7 linked regions of the Homo sapiens genome follow. The protein of the gene in region 1 purifies or fractionates together with the protein of each later gene. This does not show direct contact. Each region holds a gene or a part of one and is shown in the gene's direction. Other genes may lie near its edges.

The links.
Region 2: the proteins of ARMC5 (region 1) and IQGAP3 purify together in Homo sapiens (affinity purification with mass spectrometry; one large-scale study listed by BioGRID and IntAct). This does not show direct contact.
Region 3: the proteins of ARMC5 (region 1) and CA1 purify together in Homo sapiens (affinity purification with mass spectrometry, with the first as the bait; one study listed by BioGRID). This does not show direct contact.
Region 4: the proteins of ARMC5 (region 1) and FERMT2 purify together in Homo sapiens (affinity purification with mass spectrometry, with the first as the bait; one study listed by BioGRID). This does not show direct contact.
Region 5: the proteins of ARMC5 (region 1) and NCAPG2 purify together in Homo sapiens (affinity purification with mass spectrometry; one large-scale study listed by BioGRID and IntAct). This does not show direct contact.
Region 6: the proteins of ARMC5 (region 1) and NSUN2 purify together in Homo sapiens (affinity purification with mass spectrometry, with the first as the bait; one study listed by BioGRID). This does not show direct contact.
Region 7: the proteins of ARMC5 (region 1) and PGM3 purify together in Homo sapiens (affinity purification with mass spectrometry, with the first as the bait; one study listed by BioGRID). This does not show direct contact.

Annotation. Positions count from the first base shown.
Region 1 is NC_000016.10:31,464,498-31,468,196, forward strand, and holds the end of ARMC5 (armadillo repeat-containing protein 5), read left to right. Parts: coding exon 1-390; coding exon of another isoform or gene 391-704; exon of another isoform or gene 705-1,352; coding exon 1,353-1,485; exon of another isoform or gene 1,486-1,563; coding exon of another isoform or gene 1,564-1,581; coding exon 1,582-2,392; 3' UTR 2,393-2,668; downstream 2,669-3,699.
Region 2 is NC_000001.11:156,569,766-156,573,893, reverse strand, and holds the start of IQGAP3 (ras GTPase-activating-like protein IQGAP3), read left to right. Parts: upstream 1-1,328; 5' UTR 1,329-1,364; coding exon 1,365-1,401; coding exon of another isoform or gene 1,402-1,416; intron 1,417-4,128.
Region 3 is NC_000008.11:85,367,451-85,372,066, reverse strand, and holds part of CA1 (carbonic anhydrase 1), read left to right. Parts: intron 1-4,616. UniProt on the Homo sapiens protein: Catalyzes the reversible hydration of carbon dioxide. Can hydrate cyanamide to urea.
Region 4 is NC_000014.9:52,860,049-52,864,664, reverse strand, and holds part of FERMT2 (fermitin family homolog 2), read left to right. Parts: intron 1-42; coding exon 43-264; intron 265-3,054; coding exon of another isoform or gene 3,055-3,078; intron 3,079-3,630; coding exon of another isoform or gene 3,631-3,651; intron 3,652-4,199; coding exon 4,200-4,324; intron 4,325-4,616. UniProt on the Homo sapiens protein: Scaffolding protein that enhances integrin activation mediated by TLN1 and/or TLN2, but activates integrins only weakly by itself. Binds to membranes enriched in phosphoinositides.
Region 5 is NC_000007.14:158,694,240-158,698,855, reverse strand, and holds part of NCAPG2 (condensin-2 complex subunit G2), read left to right. Parts: intron 1-4,616. UniProt on the Homo sapiens protein: Regulatory subunit of the condensin-2 complex, a complex which establishes mitotic chromosome architecture and is involved in physical rigidity of the chromatid axis.
Region 6 is NC_000005.10:6,598,203-6,602,624, reverse strand, and holds the end of NSUN2 (RNA cytosine C(5)-methyltransferase NSUN2), read left to right. Parts: intron 1-124; coding exon 125-164; intron 165-2,392; coding exon 2,393-2,699; 3' UTR 2,700-3,386; downstream 3,387-4,422. UniProt on the Homo sapiens protein: RNA cytosine C(5)-methyltransferase that methylates cytosine to 5-methylcytosine (m5C) in various RNAs, such as tRNAs, mRNAs and some long non-coding RNAs (lncRNAs).
Region 7 is NC_000006.12:83,166,820-83,169,265, reverse strand, and holds part of PGM3 (phosphoacetylglucosamine mutase), read left to right. Parts: coding exon 1-32; 3' UTR 33-1,098; coding exon of another isoform or gene 1,099-1,404; 3' UTR 1,405-2,446. Other genes in the region: protein DOP1A, read right to left, coding at 1,099-1,404. UniProt on the Homo sapiens protein: Catalyzes the conversion of GlcNAc-6-P into GlcNAc-1-P during the synthesis of uridine diphosphate/UDP-GlcNAc, a sugar nucleotide critical to multiple glycosylation pathways including protein N- and O-glycosylation.

The DNA of each region.
Region 1 (3,699 bases):
CCCCGACCCCGACCTCGCTGCGGGCACCACGCACCCAACGCACTCCGGGCCGCAGCCCCGCCGCCGCCATCGAGGAGCCTTGGGGACGCGAAGGGCCAGCCCTGCTGCTGCTGTCGCGCTTTTCCCAGGCCCCTGACCCAAGTGGGGCACTTGTGACCGGCCCGGCGCTGTACGGCCTGCTGACCTATGTGACCGGCGCACCGGGCCCGCCCAGCCCACGTGCACTGCGCATTCTGTCACGCCTCACCTGCAACCCTGCCTGCCTCGAGGCCTTCGTGCGCAGCTATGGCGCGGCGCTGCTGCGGGCCTGGCTGGTGCTGGGGGTGGCGCCTGACGATTGGCCGGCACCACGTGCCCGGCCCACTCTCCACAGCCGGCACCGAGAGCTGGGTGAGTTCCCATACCCACCCGTCTCCTTGCCCCCATGTGAGTCCCCATCCTCCCCCATGGCTTCCATGGGCCCAGAACCTCACCTTCCCACTCACCTGTCCTCCCCAGCCCGTCCTCCAGACAACCTGTCACCAGAGTGGGGTGGGGAGCAGGGCGTTCCAGTCCCTCCATGGGCCCACAGGCAGAGTTCTGCTGTGTCCTCTGCCCTAGCCCTGGGACCCAGATACCCTAACTCTAGATGCAGCCCCGCGCCCAGGATCTGGGCTGGTCTGTGCTTCTTTCCTGGCTCTGCCATTGGTTCAGCACTGTCCTGACTGCTCCCCACCAGCACGCTGACCTGTGAACCCCAGCCTCACCATCACCCCCAGCACTGCCAGGGACTGCCCTGTCTGCTGTGCCCTGACCACAGGCTGCTTCATGGCGTTACTGCTAGACCAAGGAGCCCTTCTGCTGGCCCTGTCCGGGCATAACAGAAGGCTCGCACTCTTGTCTTCTGGTCACACCTCACTATGTCCCCTCAGCTCCTATCTCTGTATGGCCTGGTTTTTCCCAGGTTATGATTATAGAGCGAGGATTATTACAATATTGGGATAAAGAGTAATTACTACAAACTAATGATTAATGATATTCATATATCTCTAAGATCTATATCTGGTATAACTATTCTTGTTTTATATTGTATTATACTGGAACAGCTCGTGTCCTCCGTCTCTTGCCTCGGCGCCTGGGTGGCTTGCCGCCCACACTTCAGGGGCCCAGACTTACACCCTGACTGTCCCACCTTCTGTCCTTGTCCTGGACCTCAGGTTCCCAGCGTCCCGAGCCCAGCACTGTCTCTTCAGTGCCCTGATTTCTCACCCAGAGGTTTCACCCTCCTTCATCTCACGGGCCCAGAGCCCTGTCTCACTCACCCCACCTGTCTTAGACCCCAGTTCCCAGCCTGACAAGCTTTCCACTCACAGGGGAGAGGCTACTGCAGAACCTGACGGTTCAGGCTGAGTCGCCCTTTGGGGTTGGGGCCCTGACGCACCTGCTGCTCTCTGGGAGCCCTGAGGACCGAGTGGCCTGCGCGCTGACCCTGCCCTTCATCTGCCGGTGAGTGGGAAGTGGGTGCCTTGCGGGGTTGGGGGAGGAGTGCTGTGTTTCCCAGGCCCGTTGCCCACCTTTTGAAAGGCCCTCTCTTCCCTGTAGGAAGCCCTCTCTGTGGCGCCGGCTGCTTCTGGAGCAGGGTGGTCTCCGGCTCCTCCTTGCGGCGCTGACCCGGCCGGCCCCACACCCGCTCTTCCTCTTCTTTGCCGCGGACTCCCTTTCCTGCCTCCAAGACCTGGTGTCTCCCACTGTGAGCCCAGCTGTCCCACAGGCAGTCCCCATGGACCTAGACTCACCTTCCCCTTGCCTCTATGAACCTCTGCTGGGCCCAGCCCCTGTCCCAGCTCCCGACCTGCACTTCCTGCTGGACTCAGGCCTCCAGCTCCCTGCCCAGCGAGCGGCCTCAGCCACCGCCTCCCCTTTCTTCCGGGCCCTGCTGTCAGGCAGCTTTGCAGAAGCCCAGATGGACCTGGTGCCCCTGCGAGGTCTGTCGCCTGGTGCAGCCTGGCCTGTCCTGCATCATTTGCATGGTTGTCGGGGGTGTGGGGCTGCCCTGGGGCCCGTGCCCCCACCAGGCCAGCCCCTGCTGGGTTCAGAGGCCGAGGAGGCACTGGAGGCTGCTGGCCGTTTCCTACTGCCTGGGCTGGAGGAGGAGCTGGAAGAGGCCGTGGGCCGCATCCACCTGGGACCCCAGGGTGGCCCGGAGTCAGTGGGTGAGGTGTTCCGCCTGGGCCGGCCCCGGCTGGCTGCCCACTGTGCCCGCTGGACACTGGGGTCAGAGCAGTGCCCGAGGAAGCGGGGTCTGGCCCTGGTGGGGCTTGTGGAGGCAGCAGGTGAAGAGGCAGGGCCCCTGACGGAGGCTTTGCTGGCTGTGGTGATGGGGATTGAGTTGGGGGCAAGGGTCCCTGCCTAGACTGTTGACGTCCCCTGGGAAGGGGACCCAAGGATGAATTGGCTGTGAAGGATCCTCCCTGAGACTGGCAAGGGAGGAGGCTGAGCAGAAGGAGTCATCATGGAGGAGCGGTGAGAACATGGAACCGGACTCCAAGATGACGATCTAAAGACCCGGGAGCGAGAAGCCAAGGCCAGGTTCTGGGTGTAGGGCCCAGAGAAGCAGAACAGCCCAGAGCCCCAGGTGCCTGGCCTGGCCTAGACCTCTGGAATTGAGATTAAACAATTTGGAGTTGGATACCTGTGTTGTGTGGTGTGTCTGCTTCTGTTTCTTCGCCCACCAAGCAGGGTCTTGTTCAGGTCTTTGTGTCTGGACACAGACCACCCTTGCATGTGACAGTTTAATAAGTACTGGGACAAGGTTGAGTTCCCAGGCTGCTGCTTAGGATGTGGTTTTGGGCCTCAGGGGAAGCCTGCTTCCTGCTGTCAGGGCCTCACTCCTCTGACATAGCAACCCAACTGGACACACAGATCTTGCTTGGGGCTGAAAGGGTTGTGCTGAGGGAATGCTGTTAGTCTGATGATGTGTTGAAGGCCTTTGCATTACTGACTGTTGCCCATCTTGGGCCCCCATTCTTTGGCTCCCTTTTCATCTCCTGGGCCACGTGTCCTACTGCTGTCTGTCTGAGGGAAGACCTGCTGTGGAGGGAATCTCTGAGCCCTGTCTTAGTCATGCCCAGAGACAGACAAAGACCTGTGCTGGCGTTGAGGGGAGGGAAGGGCTCACATTGCTTTGGTCTCCAAGGCAGGGTCTCCATCATCTGGCTTCCAGATCTTTTTTTTTTTTTTTTTTTTTGACTATTATTTTGCTTTAGATTCAGGGGGCACGTGCATGTTTGTTACACGGGTGTATTGTGTACTGGGGAGGATTGGGTTTCTAGTGAACCCATTACCCAAAGAGTGAACACTATACCCACTAGGCAATTTTCCAGCCTTTGCCCCGCACCTACCCGCCCCCCTTTTGGAGTCCCCAGTGTCTGTTTCTATCTTCATGCCCCTGTGTACCCATTGCTTAGTTCCCACTTATAACGGAGAACATGCAGTATTTGGTTTTCTGTGTCTGAGTTAGTTTACTTAGGATAATGGCCTCCAGCTCCATTCATGTTCCTGCAAAGGACGTTATTTCATTTTTTAAGGCTGTGTACTATTCCATGGTGTATATGTACCACATTTTCCTTTTTTTTTTTTAAGAGACAGGGTCTTGCTATGTTGCCCAGGCTGGTCTCAAAATCCTAAGTTCAAGCAGTTCTCCTGCCTCAGACTCCTAAA
Region 2 (4,128 bases), on another chromosome or scaffold:
GGGGAAAGGGTAAAAGGAGAAATACAAGATGGGGAAACCTATCAGATAATATTTTTTCAGCATAGTTGTTGGTGTCATAATTATTTTTTATTAGTTCAGGCTCTTTTTTTTTTTTTTTTTTTTTTTTTTGAGACGGCGTCTCACTCTGTCGCCCAGGCTGGAGTGCAGTGGCACAGTCTCAGCTCACTGCAACCTCTGCCTCCTGGGTTCAAGCGATTCTCCTGCCTCAGCCTCCGGAGTACCTGGGATTACAGGCATACCCCACCACGCCTGGCTAATATTTGTATTTTTACTAGAGATGGGGTTTCACCATGTTGGCCTGTCTGGTCTTGAACTCCTGACCTCAGTTAATCTGCCCGCCTCCGCCTCCCAAAGTGCTGGGATTACAGGTGTGAACCACCGTGCCTGGCCTAGTTCAGGCTCTTATTATCTCTCTTCTGTGCTACTGCAGTAGCCTTCCAACTGGTCTCTGCCCCTAGCCTCACCCCCTTCCAATCCCCTGCTATAAGATGGCTCTTTTTAAAGGACAAATCTGGCTCTGACCTATGTCTAAAGTGTTCCTTGGCTGGTGACTGCTCACCAGACCCCATGCCAGGGCCCTAGCATGGTGCCCAAGGTGCTACTGGACCTGGCCCTGTGCCTCCAGGATCCCTTCTGGCCTCTCCCTGGCTGAGCTTTGTTCTCCTCTAAAACTGAACCAAGTTTAAGTTCCCGAACTCACCTCCTCGTTCTTGCACATGCTGTCTCCACTGACTGCACTGCCTCTCTTCTTCAATCTGATGAATTCTCTTTCACTTCTCAACCCAAATCAGCTGTCACTTCCACCAGGACGTCTTCCCTGTCATTCGCTGCTCTTATTCACAGCAATGACCCCCTCCCTCTGTGCATCACCGACCTCTAATTTATTTGACTATATGTCTATCACTTGTGCCAGAACAGCAAACTCTTTTAGAGCATTCACTGCCCTCATACATCTCTGCATTCGCATCACCTAGCTTAGTGCATAGCGCCAAGTAGGCCCACAAGTTAGCCGGACTCGGGAACACATAGGAAGCAGAGTAGGGGTTAATGGGAATACTAGGTGGAGATGACAGAGGCAATGGCAGGGGCAGCAGCTAGAATAAGACTGTTAAGCAGAAAAGGAGCCTGGAAGGAACAAGACGAGGAACTGCTGTAAGGGGAGCGGTACTGCCCCGGCCTGGGGCGCCTCTTCTCCCAGCACCTGGGCGGCCCGGCTCCGCGGCCGGGAACTACAAATCCCAGGATTCTCAGCGGTGTGGACGGGAAGTGTCCTGTCTGGCGGTGCCGACGGTGAGGGGCGGTGGCCCAACGGCGGGAGATTCAAACCTGGAAGAAGGAGGAACATGGAGAGGAGAGCAGCGGGCCCAGGCTGGGCAGCCTGTGAGTGCGGAGAGGGTCAGAGAAGGGTCTCGCAGTGGTGCCGCTGGTCGGGGGCTTGGCTGTCCCGGGAGAGATTGGGGCGTGTGTCGGGCGTGAAGCCTGAGGGGCGAGGGCGGTGGGACTGCTCAGTGGGACGGGAATCCTCAGCCCGGGCGCCGTGGGCCCGAGTGGAACTGTGAGCGGCGCATTGTCCCCTGACTAATGTGCTGCGCTTTAAAGCTTACAAAGAACTTTCTTCCTATTTCCAAGTTCTGGGGTTCCGGAGTCGGGAGAATGTAGGTGATCCTAATGGCTCCTTGAAATTCAGCAGTTACTGCTGGCTACCAAACTTGCCCAGCGATGCCACCGGACAAGACGCCTCAAGGGATCTGGGGGACTCTTAGGCTTTGAGATGCCGCTTTCAGACAATGCCTGTCAAACAGGGGGTGAAATTACCCGGGAAGCTTGTTTGAGATGCAGATTCCTGGGACCTGTCCCAGAGCTTCAGTTCCAGAAGGTCTGGTTTGGGGCCCATAATCTGCATTTATAACAAGCACTGCTGTGCTTCTTCCCTCACCCCAGGTGATTGTGAGGAAGGTAGTCCCTGGGCCACATTTTCAAAGACACTGTTTTAGAGAGAGAGACTGGAGCTGGAAGGATGGGTGGGGCAGAAAGGTTCTATCTGATTTTCTGAATGAAAGGAAAACCTGCTCCTTCCACCACTCCCTTCCTTTCTATTAGGATTCAAAGAGCAAAGTCCATGTCCAGTCTTCTGTTAAAGGAAAACTAGTTCCAGACCTGAGAAGGACAGGAAAACTGTTTTTCGGTTTTTTATTTTTTTGAGACAGCATGTGTATGTACAAAATCCCTCCCATCGCCCACAGTCCTCAGTTCATAACTCTGAGATGATGTCATTCACTTACTGGTTTATTTTCCATGCTTAACAACCAACACTTGTTCCTTGTACACCCCCTTGGAGGAACTGATGGCTTTCCTGTGGTTGGCCAGTGTTTTCAAATCTGTATTTGGAGGGGTGTGTGTGTGTGTGCACGCATGTGTTTTAATTTACTTAACTGCTCATTCATATAAGCTCTGCCCTTCCCTGAATCATTGCAGAATATGCAATATAAGGAAATAGGATAACAACCGGGAATGACATTAAGTGCTGAGTCAAAGACAGATTGGCTAAGCTCTGCCTTTTTTCAAGCTCTCTGAGTTTATTTTCTTACTGTGTGTGTAGCTTTCTCTTACTCTTTCTGTTTGATTTTGTATTGTGTTTCTAAGGAGAATAGAGAGAGGGGAGAGAAGGGAGAAGGATTAAGGGAGACTGTAACTAAGGCAAATTATGATTGCTGTCTCACTTGAGGGATTCTCTATTCTTGAGTTTTGGAATCAGTACTCTGTATTTTATTTAGCTTGAAGATTCTTTTCCTCCTCGGGTGACCTATACCAAAAAGGATAGTGAAGATACCTTTGTGATCTTTTAAAATTTTCTTTGTCCTTCCACTTAATCCCAAGTGAGTGGCATGTTTCCCTCTGTTGGACTGCCTTTCCCTGTGTTCCGCCTATTTATTCCTTAAGATCTAGTTCATAGCTAGAATCCTTTGCTTCCTCTGCTGCTCCCATAGATTTTATGCATGGGCTATAATCATACTTATCATGTTAGATTAATTTATTCAGATGTTTTTCTCTTCTGATAATAATCTTTGGGCGCTGTGGTTCACGCCTGTAATCCCAGCACTTTGGGAGGCCAAGGCGGGAGGATCACTTGAGCCCAGGAGTCCAAGACCAGCCTGGGCAACATGGTGAGAACCAGTCTCAACAAAAAACGCAAGAATTAGCCAGACATGGTGGTGCGCACCTGTGGTCCCAGCTATTTGGTGGTGGGGGGGCTGAGGTGGGAAGATCACCTGAGCCCAGGAGGTCAAGGCTGCACTACTGCACTCCAGCCTGGGTGACAGAGTGACACCCTGTTTCAAAAACAAAACAAACCCACCAATATCTCTGTTGTCCAGGATGGAGTGCAGTGGCACGATCATGGCTAACCGCAGCCTAGACCTCCTGGGCTCAGGTCTAGGCCCAGTAGCTGGGAGTACAGGTTTGCACCATCACACCAGGCTAATTTGTGTATTTTTTGTCAAGACAGGGTCTCACCATGTTGCCCAGGCTGGTCTCAAACTTCTGGGCTCAAGCGATCCACCTACCTCAGCATCCAGAAGTACTGGGATTATAGGCATGAGCCACCATGCAGGCCTTTATCTCTGCATTTCTTAAGAGTAGGGGTCTGCTAGTCCAGTGCCTGGCATAAAGGAGGTATTGATGAATGAATGAATGAGTGAATGATGAATTCTGGTTGGTTCTATTACCTCACCTCTGAGAGAGTAACCAACGAGGATGACACAGGTCCAGTTCTTGGAGAACTCAGTCTAATTAGGGATAAGAAAAGGAGTTAAGTTTCAAGCCAAGGAAGGCTCTGGATGTCCCAGCTGGGAGGTACTGAGGGAAGTTCCATGAGTAGACTTGAGGAGGAAGAGGACAGGAAGATGGCTACAGAGGAAAGAGAAGTAATGCCTCCAGCACAGGAGGAGGCTGCCTATTAAAGGGTATCCTGGGAAGAGAAGGAGGGACACATGGGAGATGTTTCAGGTCTCTGAGCAGGGTTGCCTAAACAAGTCTGTTGAGAAGATGTTTCGGCTGGGCATGGTGGCGGCTCAAGCCTGTAATGCCAGCACTTTGGGAGGCCAAGGC
Region 3 (4,616 bases), on another chromosome or scaffold:
CCATTAGCACGTAGTCTGCACTTAAAAAGTGGCAATCCCTTTCATTATTATTTACTTATATGTCTTTCTCCTGTACAACATTATGAGCTCCTCACTCATCTTCTGTCCTCAACACCCAGCATAGGACCTGACATATACTTGGTGTTTAATGGATGTTTGATGGTTGAGCTTAAAATCATCCATAGAAGACAGGCCACAATTCTTTTAGCCACAATGCATGTAGAAGTTCAAAAGTTCCTCAGTGAAGAGGAACTGAAAGTAAATATCAGAACCTTGCTGCTCTGTAATTCACTGAGTGCAATCCAGTCTTTATCAACACAGTAAAATCTTTACTGTTCTCATTCTCTAAAGTAGCTTCACTCACGCTCAGCAAATTATTTTATTTTTCTCATTAAGTTGTAAATCATATTACCTCTCCAGGTATTGCTTTAGACAAATATTTGTATTGGGTGGACCCTACCTGACTACTGCTGACAAGATTCTGGTGCACCAAAGGGCAAGGATGCTGCCCCAGCTGGGCTGATTTCTGCTTGGGTGTACTACACATGGCATTAAAGCCTGCAATATTCAGAGACCCCGTTCTTTGGGGGTTGCCTTAGGATTCATGAAAGCCCAGAAACTGTATTCAAAATTGTATGTGTGTATACGCACACACACCTGAGAATATGTGCACTTTCAAAGGAAACAAACCTAACTTTTATCATAATTTCAAAGGAATGCATGACCAAAAGAATTAAGATTAACAGACCTAGAAAGCCTAGGGCGCCAGAATCATTATCAAGCCAGAGGCTTACCTTTAGGAAAAGAAACAGATCTTGAAACAATTTGTGGTATGAGTTCAGATCTTTAGGGGAGCTAGAACCCCCAGTTACTAGGACCAAGGCACAGAATCAGCTAACCAAACTCCAAGGATGAAGAGTCATTGGAGTTGGCAGGGTAATTTAAATCTCCTTTAAACTCCCTCTAACTGCACATAAGTTAGATCCAGAATCTGTGGATCCATCCTAAAGATGGCAGTAGTCACTATAGCTGGGAGCTATTCAGAGAGGCATTCAGATATCACACTGTGTCATATGTTAAATGCAGACAACCAAAGGTGATAGAAGAATTATGACATCAAATTTAAAATTCCTAGAAGTATCCAGAATAGTATGCAAATGTAAATTTAACACTTCTAAGATCCATTTAAACACAATAATGGCAAATTATATTTTAACCTATTTTGTGTCTTAATCTGATAAGAAGAAATTTGAAATTGTGCATCTTTTAATACAGGACTGATTAAAATAATTTCTGAGAAAAGTCAATAAAAATAAATATTAGCGAGAAAAGAAAATCTAAGACATAAATTTAAAGTAGTGTATCTGTACATACTTATACTACAGGTTGTCATACATTTTGACAGCACTTGTCATTTTTAGAAAATTGAAATTACTTTCTATTTACTCTCTGTAAATAAAAAGCATCTCTACTGAGACATGGTTACTGAGTTCCATATTTACAGAAATGAGCTAGAATGTTTTAATCTCTAACTACAATAAAATCATCCAAGGTGATCATAAAGTTCCCATATCTCTTTCTAAAAAATAAAAATAAAATAGAACAAAGCCAGAAGATTTTAAAAGTTTTTTTTAAAAAACTCCAAGGTTTTAGTACTATTAAAAAATGCCTAAGTTTAGAGGGTTTTGATTCAATTTCCTCTGAATTTCACTCTTCCCATGATAACCAGTCACTACCATTTGTATCCCCAGAGGTTTGAATGAAGTCTGAACAAAGTTTACTTCAATTGATTTCCTGCCAATCTGAGATAGGCTGAGACTGTCAAAGTGAAGGAAAAACAGTACAAATAAACATATAAAATACAAGAAGCATAAATCTTTATGGGCTTATAAATTACAGGTATTAATATACAACAAACACTAGTTCTCTAGAACAGTCCTAACCTATTCTATGGCTGTGCCATCTAGCCCTTAATGACGGGGTTCAGCTTCAAAGACAGCTGGTTCAACTTCCCCCCCATTTCAGTTCCTGGCCTGATTCTGAAAGGTTTGGTGTCATGTTATTTCTCACTACAGAGGAAATAGTTTGCTAGACACATTAAACCCTAGGTAGCCAAATTCCAGGGATCTTAGTTGGTCATATATTACTTGGCTACTTGTTGAACTGTAATCCTATCCTCTACATACAAGTCCAGGACTATAACAGTTTCTTAATCATAAGTAAAAGTAATTTCCAATTAGTAAGAAACAGACTAACATGGGTAACAGGCGTAAGGGATGAGTGGAGAACATCAAGATTAACCCACCATAGTGCCAGGGTTCCCATTCATTTCCCCTTAAGGTAGCTATTTGGAGTATGCTTTTAAAAGAGAACCCTGTTCCCATGCTTTCTCTTAAGTACAACTTTTGCATCAACCAAAGATGGACTAGCTATTATGATGCAAAGGACCACGGGAAGCTGCTCTGGCTAAACATCTCCTTCTTGTTGGCCCTACCAGTCCACGGCATTTCATTGTTCAAAATGCATGTCTTTACTTAAGATCTTTGGAGTTTCAAATCACTATGTAAAGCAAAGATGTGACTAGAAGTTACCACATTAAGCTATTTTCTGTCATTAATGCTTTGATATGAATGTGTTTCAAGATGGTTAACTAGCCAAGGTTAGGCATTGAAAGTTGGAGAGATGCATCCTAGGCAAGCCGGGGTAATCTCCAAAGTGGGGTAACCAAGAGCATTAGGAAACTGAATTTGGAAAAGAGAGGGTAGCATGAAAGATGAAATCTGATATAAATAAGGGGGTAGCAGGGCAAAGCCATTTCACAGATCTGTAAACAAACTGCAATGCTGACCTCTGGTTTCCCTAACTAAGAGCTTTCACAAAGTAAACATGTTATTTAAAAATAATATCTCAAATAGCCATGCAGTTATGATGCGCAGTTTAACTGAGGTGGGGGAGATTCTCAGAGGGAAGAACCCAGAGATCAGGGTTCAAGGCTGGGAGAGAAATGGCTACTTCCTTGGAAATGTTCCTAGGTGTCCTGATCTGCCACTGAGCTACAGCCTTCAAACTCAAACTGCAAGGGAAGCTTTTTTCGAGCCTCCCTGGAAAAAACCCATGACCCCAAAATCCTTCCCTCGAAGCTCTATCCAGAGGCTTGGTACTGCTTCAAGTAGAAAATCTGATTTGGTTTCTGGGAAGGAGGACCTGTTGGAAAGTTACAAGATTGACGTGACAGTGACAAGTCTGGAACCTCCTGGCTCTGATGCACAGTGCTTGAACTCCCTTAGAAATGAAGCATTGCCCCCAAGATAGTATAAAGTTACAGTTATCTAAAGTTTTCTCTCTTTTTTTTACCTGTTTCTCTTTCTCCAAAAAAAAGTTTAATTTTAAGAACAATGAAAAATCAATCTTGAACAATTATAGGGAAACTCAAAAGAGCACACTGTGCATTTCAGCTACTTCAGTCACAATGAAACAATCATTAAAAAGATATTATGTTTGTTTCACACAAAGAAAATGTGAAAAAAAAAACACCTCCATATTGTTAAAGCAACATGTACCACAACTAAACACAGGTAGAATTTTTAAATTTTAAATTTGGCCAGGTGTGGTGGCTCACACCTGTAATCTCAGCACTTTGGGAGGCAGAGAAGGGCAGATCATGAGGTCAGGAGTTCAAGACCAGCCTAGCCAACATGGTGAAACCTCATCTCTACTAAAAATACAAAAAAATTACCCGGGCATGGTGGCACACTCCTCTAGTCCCATCTACTCAGGAGACTGAGGCAAGAGAATCACTTGAACCTGGGAGACAGAGTTTGTGGTGAGCCAAGATTGCGCCACTGCACTCCAGCCTGGCAACAGAGTGAGACTCTGCCTCAAAATAATAATAATTATTATTATTACTATTTTAAATTTAATTTAATTTTTTAATTTTAAAATTACAAGCGATTCATAAACATTCTGTCCTCTCTTCTTTCAATATTTTGTTTTTATTTATTGTCTAATATGTATAAGTAGCTGGAAAATTGTACAGCTCATATTCTTTTATAAGCAATGAAAAGAAAATAAGTGAGATTTAATACATATAAATAATTTTCTATTATTCTTTAATACTTTCAATTTATTTAATGCTTTTGTTTTATACAACATACAAAATACTACCGCAGCACATGTAATGTAATAGCTTAGTCGTAGTCTTACTTTTCAAAAAATTGTATATAATACATAATCTCAACCCCAGTATCAGATATCACTTGTGTACATCTTGCCTTTATTCCTATTCTTGCTTCTGGAAACCTTAGCTATTTCTGACAAAGGGTATACAAGGAATATTTCTAAAGCAGTGGCTCTCTAAGTGTGGTCCTCAGAGCAGCAGTATCAGCATCACCTGGGACTTGCTAGAAATGCAAATTCTCAGCTTCCATCCCAGACCTACTGAATCAGAAACTCTGAAGGTGAGGCTGGGCAATCTGTATTTTAACAAAGCCCTCTGATGCACAGAAATGTTTGAGAACCACTCGCTTAAAGGAACCACAAAGCAAAGATTTTTTACATGCTTCAGAACTTATCCCTAGCTTTGCTTTTCTCTTTCCAATCATTTAATTTAAATGTTT
Region 4 (4,616 bases), on another chromosome or scaffold:
ACCTCGTGATACATTGCACACATCAGTATTTCTTTTCTCCAGGAAAAACAGTATGCACACTGGATGGCAGCCTGCAGATTAGCCTCCAAAGGCAAGACCATGGCGGACAGTTCTTACAACTTAGAAGTTCAGAATATTCTTTCCTTTCTGAAGATGCAGCATTTAAACCCAGATCCTCAGTTAATACCAGAGCAGATCACGACTGATATAACTCCTGAATGTTTGGTGTCTCCCCGCTATCTAAAAAAGTATAAGAACAAGCAGGTACTTACTTCATTTTACTTCATCTACTGTGCTGGTTTGTTTTTATAATTTTGTACATAACTTTGTTTTTCCCCTCTTAAACAAAACTTTTTAGTCTTAATTTTGTATCAGATGGTTAGAATATAAAATACAGTTAGAGTATCCCTAATCTGAACCTCTGAAATCCTCCAAAATCTGAAACTTTTTGAGTGCCAACATGACTCTCAAATGCTCATTGGCACATTTTGGATTTCAGATTTGGGATCCTCAACTGGTAAGTATAATGCAGATATTCCAAAATCCAAAAAAATCTGAAACCCAAAATACTTCTGGTCCCAAGAATTTTGGATAATGGATACTCAATCTGTAGAAAATAAAGTAACCTTTAGTCAGTTTAAATTGGTCATTAAAAAAAAAAATCTTTATCATTTTAATAGAACAGATAAGGACACAGAATAGTTGAGAACTTACTCTAAACAAATTGCAGAAATCATTCTGTTAACATGGTGTTCTTTCAGACATTTTAGGGAATTGAATATGGTCTCAATGCTTTGTGTTCCTTAATTTATTTAATTTTATTCCATATATAATTAAGTAAATGTGACATAAAGTGCAGCCAGCATTTCTCAACAAAATCTGTAATACCTGCTCTTGTTGAAATTGGCTTTTCCAGCTTTAGAAAGAAACTTTACAAGAGTACATTTTTAGCCGTGTCTTTTCTTAACATTTTCAGTCAGAACCTAACCACAATTTTACACATAGTTACACAGTTTGGTAAATTTTCATTGAAATTTGCTTTTGTTCACTCTGTTTAGAATTCTTTTCTTTGGAAATTAATACCATAAAAGGGCTGCTACTTAGGAAAATGGTTCTTTGGTACAACATAAAAAGTCCTTTACAGGGGAATTTCACTTGGTATAGGCCCTGGTATTCTCTGCCCCCAACATCATGCCATAAAAGGAAAAGGCTTTAGTTTGGGGGTGGGGAGACGAAGACCTTTAAAATAAACATTTTGTTTTTATCTAATTTTGCTTTAATCTTTGTTAAGGAATAATTTTAAAACATACTAAAAAGGCTCAATGAAATGCCCAGAACACTTACTAATTCCTTAACTTTAAGTATAATATTTATTATATGGGTCTAAAATTATTTCTACCTAAATGTTCAGAATTTTAATGACAGAATATTTGTCTTTAAGTCTCAGAGGTTGTGTAAGCCTAGAAATTGTTTATCCCGTGGTCATATGATGTGGGAGTAGTAAGGAATGGAGGAAATGCTGCCCTGGGGAACTGTATGGAATGTAGATTGTAAGTTAAAAAGAGAAAGTAAAGCAAGTGCTAATTTCATTTTTCATTCGTAGTTTTTTAAAATTATTTATACAGAATCTTGTTTCTAAAAGTGAACTTATTTGCCTTCAAAGGCAATAAGTAATTTCAAACCTGACCAATTTTATCATTTCACAGTAAGGTATCAGGGAGATAAAAGAGCTTAAACGAGAGCTGCCACACATTGTTTTCACTGTCAACTATTTGTTTTCTCAGAAGCCTTTTAAATGATAGTTCTTGACTAGAAACTATCAACTGAAGATTTATCTTTAACTGACAGGAGGACAGTTTGTGTGTGGTCCGTGGTTAAAGATCCTTCTGGCCTTGCCTTTCATGTTGCCATCTAATCAAATGCACATTTTTAACCCTCCTTTCTCTCACTAGAGCTATAGGTTAGATTTTTTGGTGTGTATTTTGTTCTCTTTGAGGCAGAGTCTCTCTGTCTCCCAGGCTGGAGTGCAGTGGCACCATCATAGCTCAAGCGCACTGCAGCCTCCATCTCCCAGGCTCAAGCAATCCTCCCACCTCAGCCTCCCTAGTAACTAGAACCACAGGCACGCACTGCCACTCCAGGCTAATTTTTGTATTTTTTGTAGAGATGGGGTCTCGCTATGTTGCTTAGACTGGTCTCAAACTCTTGAGCTCAAGTGATCTGCCTGCCTTGGCCTCCCGAAGCACTGGGATTACAGGTGTGAGCCACCACACTCTGCTGGAATAGACTTACAAATTGTTGGCCAGGCACAGTGGCTCACGCCTGTAATCCCAGCACTTTGAGAGGCCGAGGCGGGTGGATCACTTGAGGTCAGGAGTTTGAGACCAGCCTGGCCAACATGGTGAAACCCCATCTCTACTAAAAATACAAAAATTAGCCAGGCATGGTGGTGCACGCCTATAATGCCAGCTACTTGGGAGGCTGAGGCAGGAGAATCACCTGTACCCGGGAGGTGGAGGTTGCAGTGAGCCAAGATGGCGCCATTGCACTCCAGCCTGGGTGACAAGAGTGAAATTCTGTCTCAGAAAAAAAAATTGTTTCCAGAGAATAGCGACCATGATGTTATTGCCCTGGTGCCTAGTAAGTAGTGACATTCAGAAGTTTAGTTGCTACTGTGTGTCAGATACCACACTAGTCACACTGGACATAGTGCTCAGTAATTATTAAGCTGTATCCAGTTGCGTTCTGGAGGCTGTAGGAAGATGTGCAGGCCACAAGGACATTCTTCCCTACCTGGGCATAGACTCGTAGTTTTCTTTTGGGTCTATCAAAATAACCTGTTGTATTTAACCTACTTTAATTCCCTTCAATTATATATATATTAACTAAACATGCTGTGGGTATTTTTAAATAAATATGACTCTCAAACTGGATTTTTAAATTTTGAAGAATTATTCTATATGTTGATTTATGTTAATCTAAATGGAAATGACTAATGCCATAAAGCCGAAATTCCTCATGTAGTATACGGCATCTCTTTGTTTTCCCTTCCAGGAAAAAGGATGCAAAAAACACATGGTAACTGAGGGGTTTGCTTTTCTTGTGTAAAAAAAGAAACAGATGGGCACTGCACTTATTTTATGCCTTCAAATTCTTATTTCTGAAAAGCAGTGCATGGATCATATTATCTGACTAAATCTGAGAAGACTTTAAAGGCTTTTGGATACTTTTATTTTGCTACTAAAATAATTGGCTTTACCTTAACCGGTGAGAACTGGGTACACGATGTAACTGGGTACACGATGTAGGGGGAAAGAAATATTTGCTCTTTTTATCTTCTCCCTACAAATTTCTACCCTTAGGTTCTTTAGCAACATTTAACATTCTAAAATAATGTGGAGTGTTTCTCAGTGTTCTAAATGGAAAGTAATTGCTGCTTCCTCATTTTCATTTTTCATTCTTGCATTTACTTTGCTTGGTTTCTACCTAAAGTAGTTTTTTGCATGACTTTTGGCTGGAATTTTGGTTTGCAGGTGACCGCAACTTTTTCTTTGCTTCGTTGCCATTTTTTCTGATTGCCTTTTTTTTTCTTTCTGCTTCCTTTTTCTTTCCTCGCATTGCCATCTACAGCCAGGCTATATAAGAGATTTGGTAAGTTCTCCATATTTACCACAAAAGAAAAAGAATAAATAAAAATTCATAGCCACAACCTTCCCTCATGGAATTTACCCCAGTAGTGAAATTTAAATTTAAAATAGAAATGATTATGGTGATTTCAAGTACCTTAAAGCTGCTAACAAATATTCCTGCTAGAAACATGTATTCCAGGTATTCATTCTGATTATAGACATAGTGCTAAATTTAATTAAAACTCGTGTATATGTGGATTAGAATGTGCTGTTCTGTAATAGTAGTACCGTTAGGTGTATGCATTTGGAATATGTCTCAAGTGTGGCAACTATGTACTCCTAATAGTACTTTTTGTTGATATATGAAAACTGAAATTAAGACTTATTTTGAAAAATCCTTATACATTACATTATTACAGTGTCCAAATGTAGCTTCAGATATTTTGATTTCAACTCTTACAATATGATTTTGGGGTACGGGGTGCGTAATTCAATCTTTTGATCTTTTGTCTCAGTTCTCCCATGAGAGAATAATGTTCAATGGTAAAGGTGATGTTTACTCATGTTTAGATAACAGCGAGAATCTTGGAGGCCCATCAGAATGTAGCTCAGATGAGTCTAATTGAAGCCAAGATGAGATTTATTCAAGCTTGGCAGTCACTACCTGAATTTGGCATCACTCACTTCATTGCAAGGTCAGTGGTTCTAAGCATCTATGTGTAAACCTTAATCTGCATTTTTGCTTAATCTACCTCATGTAATTAGATATTAAACATCTAAAGCATACCTATGTAGACCCATTAACTCATATTACAATAGAATTCAAAGACTGTTAGAATGTATTTTGTAAGCTTTTAATTTCTACATTAAAAATTCAAGATAATTGTGTTTGTTTTACTACTAAGAGAATAGCACTCTTGGCCAGGCACGGTGGCTCACGCCTGTAATCGCAGCACTGTGGGAGGCCGAGGTGGGTGGATCACGAGG
Region 5 (4,616 bases), on another chromosome or scaffold:
TATGATTGTGCAACTGCACTCCAGCCTGGGTGACAAAGTGAGACCCTGTCTCAAAAAAAAAAAAAAAATACTACTACTACTGATAAAGCAAGTGGAAGTGGAAGTTGGGAACGATGGAGTGGCTAAAGAAAACCTCAGAGATGATATTTGAACAGAGTTGGTACAGTCACATGACTCTTGATGAGGATAGGTTCTGAGAAATGCATCATTAGGTCATTTCATTGTTGTGTGAACATCCTAAAGTGTGCTTACATACACCCAGATGGAGCAGCTCAGTACACACCTGGGCTAGATGGTACAGTCTACCGTCCTAGGCTACAAACCTGTGTGGCATGTTACTGTACTGAATACTGTAGGCACAGTGTTGTAACACAATGGTGTGTGTCTAAACATTGAAAAGGTACAGTAAAAATACAGTATAAAACATAAAAAATGGTACATCTGAATAGGGCACTTAGTGTAGCTGGAGCTGGCACAACTGGAAGTTGTTCTGGGTGAATAACTGAGTAGTGAGTAAATGTGAAGGCCTAATACGTCATTGTACACTACTGTAAACTATAAACACATTACACTTGGGCTACAGTAAATTTATAAAAACATTTTTCTTCAATAATAAATTAACCTTAGCTTACTGTAACTGTTTTACTTGATAAACTTTTAAAATCCTTTATAATAACACTTAGCTTAAAACACAAACTTATTTTGCTTTACAAAAAATCTTTCTTCATTTTATTTTATTTTAACTTTTATATTCAGGGTTACATGTACAGGTTTGTTACATAGGTCAACTTGTCTCATGGGGGTTTATTGTACAGATTATTTCATCACTGAGGTATTAAGCCTAGTAATTAGTTATTTTTAGTTATTTAGTTATATTAGTTATTTTTCCTGATCCTCTCCCTCCTCCCACCCTCTACCCTCCAATAGGCCAGTGTGTGTTGTTCCCCCGTGTCCATGTGTTCTCATAATTTAGCTCCTACTTATAAGTGAGAACATGCTGTATTTGGTTTTCTGTTCCTGTGTTAGTTTGCTATGGATAATGGCCTCCAGCTCCATCTATGTCCCCGCAAAGGACTTGATCTCATTCTTTTTTTATGGCTGTATAGTATTCCATGGTGTATATGTACCACATTTTCTTTATCCAGTCTATCATTGATGGGCATTTAGGTTTATTCCATGTCTTTGCTAAAAATACTCTCTTTATACCCCTATTTGATAGCTTTTTTCTATTTTTACTTTTTTTTTTTTTTCTTTTCAGTTGGAGCCTTGCTCTGTTGCTCAGGCTGGAGTGCAGTGGCGTCGTCTTGGCTCACTGCAACCTCCGCCTCCCGGGTTCAAGTGATTCTCCTGCCTCAGCCTCCTGAATAGTTGAGATTACAGGCACACGCCACCACACCGGCTAATTTCTGTATTTTTAGTAGAGACAGGGTTTCGCCATGTTGGCCAGGCTGGTCTCAAACTCCTGATCTCAGGTGATCCACCTGCCTTGGCCTCCCAAAGTGCTGGGATTACAGGTGTGAGCCACCATGCCCAGCCATCTATTTTTACTTTTTAAACTTTTTTGTTAAAAACTAAGACACAAATATACCATAAGCCTGGGCCTGTACCAAGTCAGGATCATCAGTATCACTGTCTTCCACCTTAACATCTTGTCCCAGTGGAAGGTCTTCAGGGGCAATAACAGACATGCAGCTGTCATCTCATCTCCTATGATAACATTGCCTTCAGGAATTTCTCTTGAAGCACCTGCCTAAGGCTAGTTTACAATTAACTTAAAAAAATGTAGAAGGAATATACTCTAAAACAATGATAAAAAGTAGGTTTGTTTACACCAACATTACCACAAATGTGATTAATCTGTTACACTATGATGTTTTGACAGCCATGACATCACTAGGTGATAGGAATTTTTCAGCTCCATTATAATCTTATGGGACCACTCTCATATATGTGGTTTGTCATTGACTGAAATATCACTATGCATTGCCTGACTATATTTGATCAGAGATCCAAATGGGCCATGCAGAGATTTGGGAAAAGAAGATTCTAGACAAAAGGAATGGGAAAGGCCGAGCCCCTGAGGCAGGGCACATTTGGGAAGCTAAGGGTGTGGACTTAGGAGGAGGAGGGTGGCAGGGTTAGGGTGGAGAAGTAATTTCTTTCCTGTTGAAATAACTGCTAAGTTAAAAGAAAAGTTGCAAGAGGAATTCAAAGGAATCCTGAATACCCTACGTCCAGGTTTGCCAGTTTTTACCACTTGCCACATTTTCTTTATCATCCTTTGTATTTACATTTTTTTGAATCACTTGAGTCAGTTGTAGGCATTGTGCCTCTTTATCTCTAAACATTTCAGTTCGTATTTTTCTAAAAGATATTCTGTTATATAATCACATTAAAATCCTCAAAATCAGGAAATTTAACATTGTGGATAATCCTGTTAAATAACCCTCTGCAGCCTATGTCCTCTCCTCTTGAATCTGGATTGGGCTTGTGCCTGCTTTGACGGACGGAATATTGAGGAAGTGGCCTTCAGAAAGTTTGGCAGCTTCTACTTCCTCTCGGAGCCCGTGGTTGTCATGTAAGAAGTGCAGGATCACCCTCTGCTGGAGAGAGAGACCACACACAAAGGCTGGAGGATGAGACTGCAGAGGGAGACCTCATTAGTGGGCACCAAAGTGCCAGACATCCAACACCCAGCTGCCACCTTAAGCACAGGCATGTGTCCCCAAGAGTGAGCATCTGATTCATGAGATACAGTAAAATTGTTGCTTTATGCTACCAAGTTTTTTGCTACGCAACAAGACTTCCCCTGCTTCATACACATTGTGCCAGTCACAAGAGGATACCTCCCTCTGGGCATATAGACTACAAAAAGGCACCTTGCTGGGGCACAGGTGGCCAGGGCACTCACACAGGGAGGAGAGGCCCTGCAGGATGTCCACCCCACCGGCCCCTCATCCTGGTGCGCTCTGTACAGCACAGGGCTGCACAGCTTCTGCATCCGGGGGCTGGAGGTGGTTGTGGAAGGATGCCCACAGGCAGCTCGCTAGTCTGCACGTGTTCTTTCTAACTGCTGGGCTTTTGTGTTGCCCTGCCTTTGCCCAGTGTCCTATGGCCCTAGAGGCCTGGGCCGTCACTGCTAATGTCGTGGCAATGCCAGGCAATGACCACCCCAAGGCCATGCTGGGGAGAGGTAGAACATTTTGATATTTGAACAGCTTTTGTCCCCCATCCTTTCCTTGCCCTTCCAGCCAGCTCTTCAGTGCCCTAGGCAACAGCCACTCATTTCTCACATCCCCAGCTCCAAACAGCCTTCAGTGAAGCTGGGTGTGTGTCTCATTTTGTTGCTATAGTTTGTTACTGGAACCTCTCTCACTCTCATTTCTTCAGGGTTGATTTTTCAGGAAGGAGTTAGCAGCCCATCCTAGTTTGTCACATAGGTGGATGGGCAGCTATTTCTTTTCCTTCAGGCTATATCCTTCAGCATACACCTCTAATAGATTTTAACAATCTGTAGGTTGTTATTCTTGCCCCTAGACTGTGAACTTACTCAGGGCAGGGTGGGTCCTGATTCGTTTCTGTGCCCTAACCATCAGTCAACTAGTATTTCCTGATGTAAGCGTCATGAATCAGCCCAGTCATTTCTCTGGTCACCTTCAGTCACCAGAGTTTGCCCTGAATAGAACCTCTTGATCTTTGAACACAGTAGCTGTGGTCCATCACCCAGATGAATGACCCCAGCACCAAAACTGTCCATTGATATACTGGAAAATTACCATTAATGGACTTAAGCGGGCCATTAACTTATTTTTTCTGCATAATTGAGGCGTAAAGAATTATTCAATTGTTCATGATTGAATGTCGGGTCTATAGGTAGATCAAGATACTGTCTAAGGTCAAACATTTGAGAGCTGGTCTGTGTTTGCATGTGATTGACAGGCAAAGGCTTAAGGAAAATGGAGAGGAGAATTGAAGGGGAGGAGGGTCAAGGAAACGAGGAAAGAGAGTAGATAGAAGTGAACAAGCGGAGGTGGAAAAAGCTAGATGAAAAATGAAGGAGCGCTAAGAAGAGGAGAAAACAAACACCAGGGCAGGAGAGGAGCTAGGAGAGCAGGAAGAGAGGATGGGGGGATGGAGGGCTTATGAGGTTATCTTTACTCTAGTTCCTCCATCTTACTGTGTTTTTTATGACCCCGACAGTTTTGAAGAGTGCAAGTGGCTCTTTTGTGGTATAGCCTTCAATTTGCATCTGTTGAGGATCTGATTAAATTTTAGTGTGCATTTTGGCAGGAACTGCTTAGCAGTGTTAGGTCCTCGGCGCTGTCAAGACAGGAAGCGCATGGCATGGTCTGTCCGTCCCTGTGTGGGTAGGTGTCCGCCAGGTCTCTTCTGGGAACCTGCCTCTGTGGGAAAGTGGTGACACTGTAATGTCCTGCTGCTCACCAGGCTTCCACCCACTTGTTTCAGCATCTCCCGATAATTCCTGCCAGAGTCCATAATTATTGTGATGGCTATAAAACAGTGATTTTCTAACCCTGTATTGCATCTATGTTTATTCACTGACATTCTAGAGCATGCAGGTGCTATTAATTAATGATTTGATATTTATTATCAGT
Region 6 (4,422 bases), on another chromosome or scaffold:
ATGTAGATTATTTGTTGTTTTCTTTCTTCAGAATACTTAACACATCACTAGGTGCAGAAATGTGCTCAGCGCATGCATCCACTACCTGGAAAACCTGGCAAATGTGTGTCTGTTTCTTTTCCAGCAAAGGGAAGCATCGTGCTGAAGTATGAACCAGATTCTGCGTAAGTCAGTACACGCCCTGCCCTTAGACACACACGCCTTGTCATTAGCTACAGTGTTCTCGTTGGTGAGGAAAGTGACTTGGGAAGGTGGGAACCTTCTTCAGGCCTTTTGTGATTGTTCCTCAGAAGTAGCCTTGTGAAAACTTCAGAACCAAAATATTCCTGTAGGTCATCATGAAGATGCTGTTTCATAGAACACTCAGCTCAGGCTAAGTGAATTTTTACTTACAGAGAATAAAATGCATAGTACTTATTTTTTAAGCATTAGAAACCAATGAAAATTTCTGTCTTGTACAGAGTAAGTGTGAAGATTGGACAGTTGAGTGAGGTTCCGTTCTTTTGTCCTCATGGCTGGTTCAGCCATGTGTGTTGCTGACATGTTACTGCATCAGGAGTGCTAGGGCCGGAGCATGGGATTTGCTCACGCTTGCACTCACGGTCCCCACGGGACCACTGCTCCACGCTGCTTGCATGTATTCACGCTGCATCCTTGTGGGGGGCCTTGGGGGAGCAGGTGCTGGTTTTGGCAGCACTTGCCAGAGGAGGAAGCCGGGACAGAAAGTTAGGTGGCTTGCCCAGAGCTCCTCAGCTCACGAGTGGCAGAATTCGGATCTCACCTGCAACAGCTCCGTCTTGGTGACATGCAACACCATTTCTGAGAGGAGGAAACAGAATGGGGTCCACGGCTGACTGGGATTTGGGGGAGTGAATAGGTAGAACCACTGTACAGATTTCTTTGGGAAGTTAGTGTTGGACCAGGGATCCAGTGCTAACTTGAAGGAACCACCAAAGCGCAGATCCTGAGGCAGGTGCAAGCTGGGGGTCGGGGCGGGCCCAGCCAAGTAGGGAAGGAGGAGGGATAGGTAAGAGGTTGGCAGGGAGGCCGAGGGGCCACATGTCCTCAGGGTTCAGGCTGTCCGGCTGCCATGTGGAGAGAGGACAGGTGGGGGCTGAGGTGGGAGGGGCAGGAACTTGGTGAGGGAACAACAGATGGATGGGCTGGAGAGGTCAGCGAGGCCGAGCGCATGAGCACCCTGGGGACCTGCTGGAGGCGGATGGTGTCTGGATGGTGAACGGGCAGGAGCATCTAGTGATTGATGGCTTCTGGGTGTTTTTAACGAGAGTTTGAACAAAGACTCAGAAATGGTTTTTAAAATAACAGTCCCATGTGGCCCACATAGAAAATATTGGGATATTTTAAGGTGTGGATTCACTTTTCCATATTTAAACACTTGTTTCTACTTGGTGAAATACACAGGTGACAGGTCAACTTCAGGAATAATGGTTTTTTTTTTTTAAGAAGATGGGAGTTGGGAATTTCTTATATTTTCCTCTCACTTCTTAAAACCACCTTTGTGCCCCTGCTTTACATTAGGAAAAATGGAAAGGTGATTAAACACGGCCGTTAGGAGCCTAAAATCTAGGTCAGAGTCCCGTATGAAAGAAATCAGATAAGTTGAGAGAGGGCGTGTGCAGGTTGGAAATGGTGGCGTCCATCTCTGCTGGGGCGTCGATGCCTCCTGGCTGGACAGGTGGAGCCTGGAAGGTAGGGAGGCTCGGAGCATGTTCAGAGAGGCAGGGATGTTTTTGACTGTGGGTAACACTGCATGCTGGGAACGGAAATGAGCACTGTGTGCCCAGCAGGGCTCAGACTGCCATGTGGGGTCCCTGGAGAAGAAATCACGCTAACACTGAGTATCAAAAGGATGAGTGGTCCTGGGTTCTGCTCTGGCAGCCCTGCTAAGGGCAGAGTCTCCCGGTGGTCCTGGGTCCTGCTCTGACGCCCTGCTAAGGGCAGAGTCTCCCAGCCTCTCAGGAGCTTCAGTCCACTTAGGAAACTTGAGGTGAGCTGCAGGGAGCCTGTGGAGAAACGCTTCTCATTTAGTGGGGTGAGGTGACACGGGGTGGCGGGGACAGTAAGTTAAGTTTGAGAAGGAAGTATGTAGAAAGTGTATGTGAAATCTGTAGATTTGGGGCCTCTACTCCATTGTGAACTTAAAGAGGCAGGGCGAAAGCGAGGGTGAGAATTTTACTCAGGACATGAAGAAGGAAGTCCTTTGAGAAAACCTACCCCTCGGATCCAGATGAAATGTCCTCCCAGTAGTTTTGGGGGTTTTGTGGGTATGGGTTTTCTGTGGTTTTCTTTTTTAAGCAGTTGCATATTACATCTCATTCGATTTAGTTATGGGAATGTTTAATGTTCTACATGAAGCCACTTTCACTTGTAGGAATCCAGACGCTCTGCAGTGTCCCATCGTCTTATGCGGATGGCGGGGAAAGGCCTCCATTCGAACTTTTGTGCCCAAGAATGAACGGCTTCATTATCTCAGGATGATGGGGCTGGAGGTATTGGGAGAAAAGAAGAAGGAAGGGGTTATCCTCACAAATGAGAGTGCAGCCAGCACCGGACAGCCAGACAATGACGTGACTGAGGGACAGAGAGCAGGAGAGCCCAACAGCCCAGATGCAGAAGAGGCCAACAGTCCAGACGTGACAGCAGGCTGTGACCCGGCGGGGGTCCATCCACCCCGGTGAGCAGGCCCAAGGCAGCGGGGGCCCACACCCCTCACACGCAAAACTGGCTTCTTCTGGTCACTGGTGTCTGAAACCAAATCCAGAGCAGCCTGTGGCCTGTAAAGCATATATTTCTAATGACTGCAGACTGGTGGGATCATAGGAGCCTTCTGAATGACCAGGACTGCTTTCTTTGGAGCTGATGAAAATGTACTCTTTTAGCGTGTTAGAAATCACTTGTTTTATTTTGTTTCTTTGGCCAAGCTGGGTCTAGTGTTTCTTTTGCTGGGAATAGACTTTCAAAAGTTGTACTTCTATCAAGAAACAAAACTGCCCTTGCAGAAATTTCAGGTCTTTTGTTAAGCCTGTATTGGTCTTAAGGTGCAGTATTTTTTAAATTATTATTTATAGAAAGAATCTATAAATTCTTGGGGAAGTGTGTTATAAGCTTTAATAATTACATTGAGCTGCACCTCAGTGGTGTGTCATTAACATGCAGTGGGGTTAATATCTGAGGCCTCAGATGACTTTGTGCCTTTTGGAATAAAGGGTAAAATAAACTCTCCCAGAGTAAGAGCTGTATCGTGAATTGTCATACTAATTATTGAGGGGGACTTATGTGCTTTTATTGAATGGAGTGCTTTACAATTTTTATTTTTAAATGGGGTTGGGATCCTTGGAATATTTCAATAAAATTGATAAAATATATACATGTGTGATTCCTGTTTTTGCTCTTAGGAAGCAGAAAGAACAAACTTACTTTTGGCTAAATGGCAGTGTTAGAATACATCCTTATTTTCTCTAGTGAAAGCGGTTTTACTGTGAAGGCTGCTGTCTTCCTGTCTACCTCATTTTGTGTGTTGGTCTGTACAAACACCGACCACACACTGCCTTTGGTGGATTTGTCTCTGGAGTCTCCACTGTGGAATACTTTCAAGCTCTGTGGCGTGAAGAGCTCCTATTTCTCTTTCGCCCACATTCTCCACTGAACATTTCTCTACATTTGCATTTGCATCCTCTGGTGTGCTTGCATGTCACTCATTGTTTTCTGAACCCTTTGACAGTAAGTTACAGACGTGTTCCGTTACCCCCTTGCTCCTGTGGTGTTTCCTGGAAACAGAGGCCCTCTTTACAGCTCGCAGCATAGGCGTCAGAAACGTGGATGCAGGTCACCCTCAAACCAGCAAGCTCGCTCCAGCGGCCCAGTAATGTCCTTTGCAGTCACAATGTCCAATTTTGTCTGGGGTGACACCAGTTGCCTTTGGCTGTCTTGTCTCGAGTTCACTACCGTCAGAAACAGTTCCCAGTCTGTCTTTTATGATTGAGACAGTCTTGCAGGGTACCGGTCAGGTAGTCTGAATGTGCTTCAGTTTTGGTTGGTCTGAAGTGTCCCTGTGATGTGTGCGTTTTTGACAGGAGGACCACAGAGGTGGTGCTGTGTTCTCGCTGCGTCATGCCAGGAGGCTGACGATGTTGGGTTTTCTCTTTATAGTGGTGGTGAAGTTTGTTTTATTATTAGTAACATGGTATCTGTCTGCCAAGTTTCTCCACTGAAAAATTTGTAAGTATTGTGCAAGGAGACATTTCAAGACTATATTCCTCTCTCTCATCAAACTTTTAACTGCCAGCTTTAGTATTTCTTGATAATTTGCCTGAGCCAGTTTTTACTGTGACAGCTACAAATTGTTTTCCCCCATTTTTCATCACTTCTACATTATTAGTTCTCATTACATAGAATAAGCAC
Region 7 (2,446 bases), on another chromosome or scaffold:
GAATTGGAGAAAGGCCCCAACCAGGTTTCTGAAGATAATTTTCATATTCCTGAGAAACTGGACTTTTTACAAGTCTTTACAAAACTGTCAATAATAATGGCAGTACTAAGAGATTTATAATCATAATGTTTACAATGCAGCCTACTGGATTGTCTCTAGATCTGTTTTTCTTAAACACTAACAGAATAATTCTTTATAAATAGGTAAGCCTTACACTTGTTAAAGAAATTTACCTCTAATTTCAGTCTCACTAATGTAAAATACTGGGACTTAAGTATACAATTCAGTCACTAACTGTACAGTTTTATGTGGGGAACAATTCATGCAGGCTACTGGAAAATTAAATCTTATTACCAACTCCTTGTGATATCTTTGCCATCACCATCACATGAGCAAGATGATGTTTTGCAGCATTCCCCATTGCTGATACAAATGGAGAGGGCAGAGAAGACTTTATACAACCAGTTTTTCCATTGCAGAGTCTTAAGAAAGATTATTAGATGACTTACCTATATGACTAATGCCATCAGGAACTCAGAGGTATGAATAGGGGGTTGTCCATCCCTCTTCCATACTGAGGTGGAGATGCTCATGCAATACTTTTAAGGATGCATGGTCCAGCCTTCAGTTATTCTTCACTGCTCTTGGTGAAGGTATGTGGGAGAAAAACTAATTATAATACGTTTCCCAGCCTCTGATGGAGAAGGAACACCATTCTGATACCAGAACATGGTTAATAAGGAAAAGAGAAAAATCCCCAACCAATCTTAATTGAACCAAGTCTGAAACCAATGGAAAAAAAAAATGGGTAGTGTATATTTTGCAGGTTTAAGACAACTCAGGACAATAAAAACAATGGACTTTACATGTGTATATATATAGCTCTCTTAGGCACCATAATCAGTATGAGCCAACAATATTTAAACTTGATTCAGGCCACATTCAGACATTTGCTCTTATATACAAATATTTAAATTAAATACAATCTGAAATGTGTTCTGTTACATACAAAAAAGGAAAAACTATACAACGCAGAGCAGTGTGTGTGTTTTAAATAATTACATTTACATGTAAGCTAAATGGAACCAGCAATGGTGCTCAAGTTTTTATCATCCCTTCCAGAAAATCTTTTTCTACCATCTCTTCTATTTTTTGCCTGGCTTTGCTGGAACATGGTTTGTGGTTCTCCAGTTTCATGTCCTTATTAGGGAAGGCATTTGAGTAGAGGATAGGACTCCCTGAGTGTCCTCCACATCGGCTTGTGACTTTGCTGTTGAAGACTTGACTGAGCACATTGAAGAACGGCAGGAGCTGCTCCATACTGCGCACGGTGCAGATGGTGAGCAGCAAGTGCCCTGGCTCCCAACCCAATGTTCTCCCTGAGTTGTCTTCCTCTGGATTTTTCTGCAGAAAACAAAAAGTGAACTGGTATTAATACAACAGACAATGTGGTATGTTAGAAAAATTAAAAATATATAAACTTTGGCAATTGGTCAAGAAATGAATACAAATGACATTAAGTTTCTAACTCCTGACCTGATCAAAACCCTTGGTGCTTCTGAGACCTTTTACTGCCATTTATTAGTTTTACATGGAGCAGTCTAACATTGTAGTAATAGTTCCCAACTAGAATGCGCAGATAAGCTTAGTTAACAGAAATAGCTTTGAACAGGAATAGAGTCAAACATAAAAGTTTTATGTTGTGCTTTGTATTTACTCAAAAAGCTCCCAGGTTTCTGAACCCTCACTACTGTAACCAAGGACTAGGTCACAAAATTACTACAGAAAAAAGGAACAAAGTGCTTTATACATTTCATAATATATCCCCTTTTATTATAATTAGTTAATTCCCTTTTATCTAAATGGCCTAAATTTGCCATGATGGTAGCAGTGTCCAAAGTGAATAATTACTGTCAGTACTGCATCACAGAGAAAGGAAGGGATCCCTCAGGAGACACTGCTGTCTCCTTCTGGGTTGTGCTAAACAACATAGGGAGGAAAGCTGGACCTGGAGTCAAAGGAATTGAGTTAGTGTGCTGGCTCTGCCATACTTACGGCACCCTTGGGCAGGATATACAAAGGTTCCTCACTTATAAAATGGGACAGTCTAAAACTACCTTTTAGTAGAGAAGTCAAATGAGAAGGTATGTGAAAACTCTGTCAACTAAATATAAAGACTAATAATTTGGGTATTAAGAGGCTAGTTTGAGAAGCCACCTGAATTACACAAACACAGCTACAGACATCATTCTGTCTAGAGAAAGATAAGAGAGAACAGGTTGGTTGAACTTGGGCAGAATCACAGATACAATTCCACACTAAAGAATGAAAATAAGCAATGAACTAGACAGAAGGAAGAAATCATGAAGACTTAGGAAGCAGAATTACAATCTGTCATATTAACAAATGGAGTTTGCCTTCTAAGATCAGATGTTGCTCAGAAACT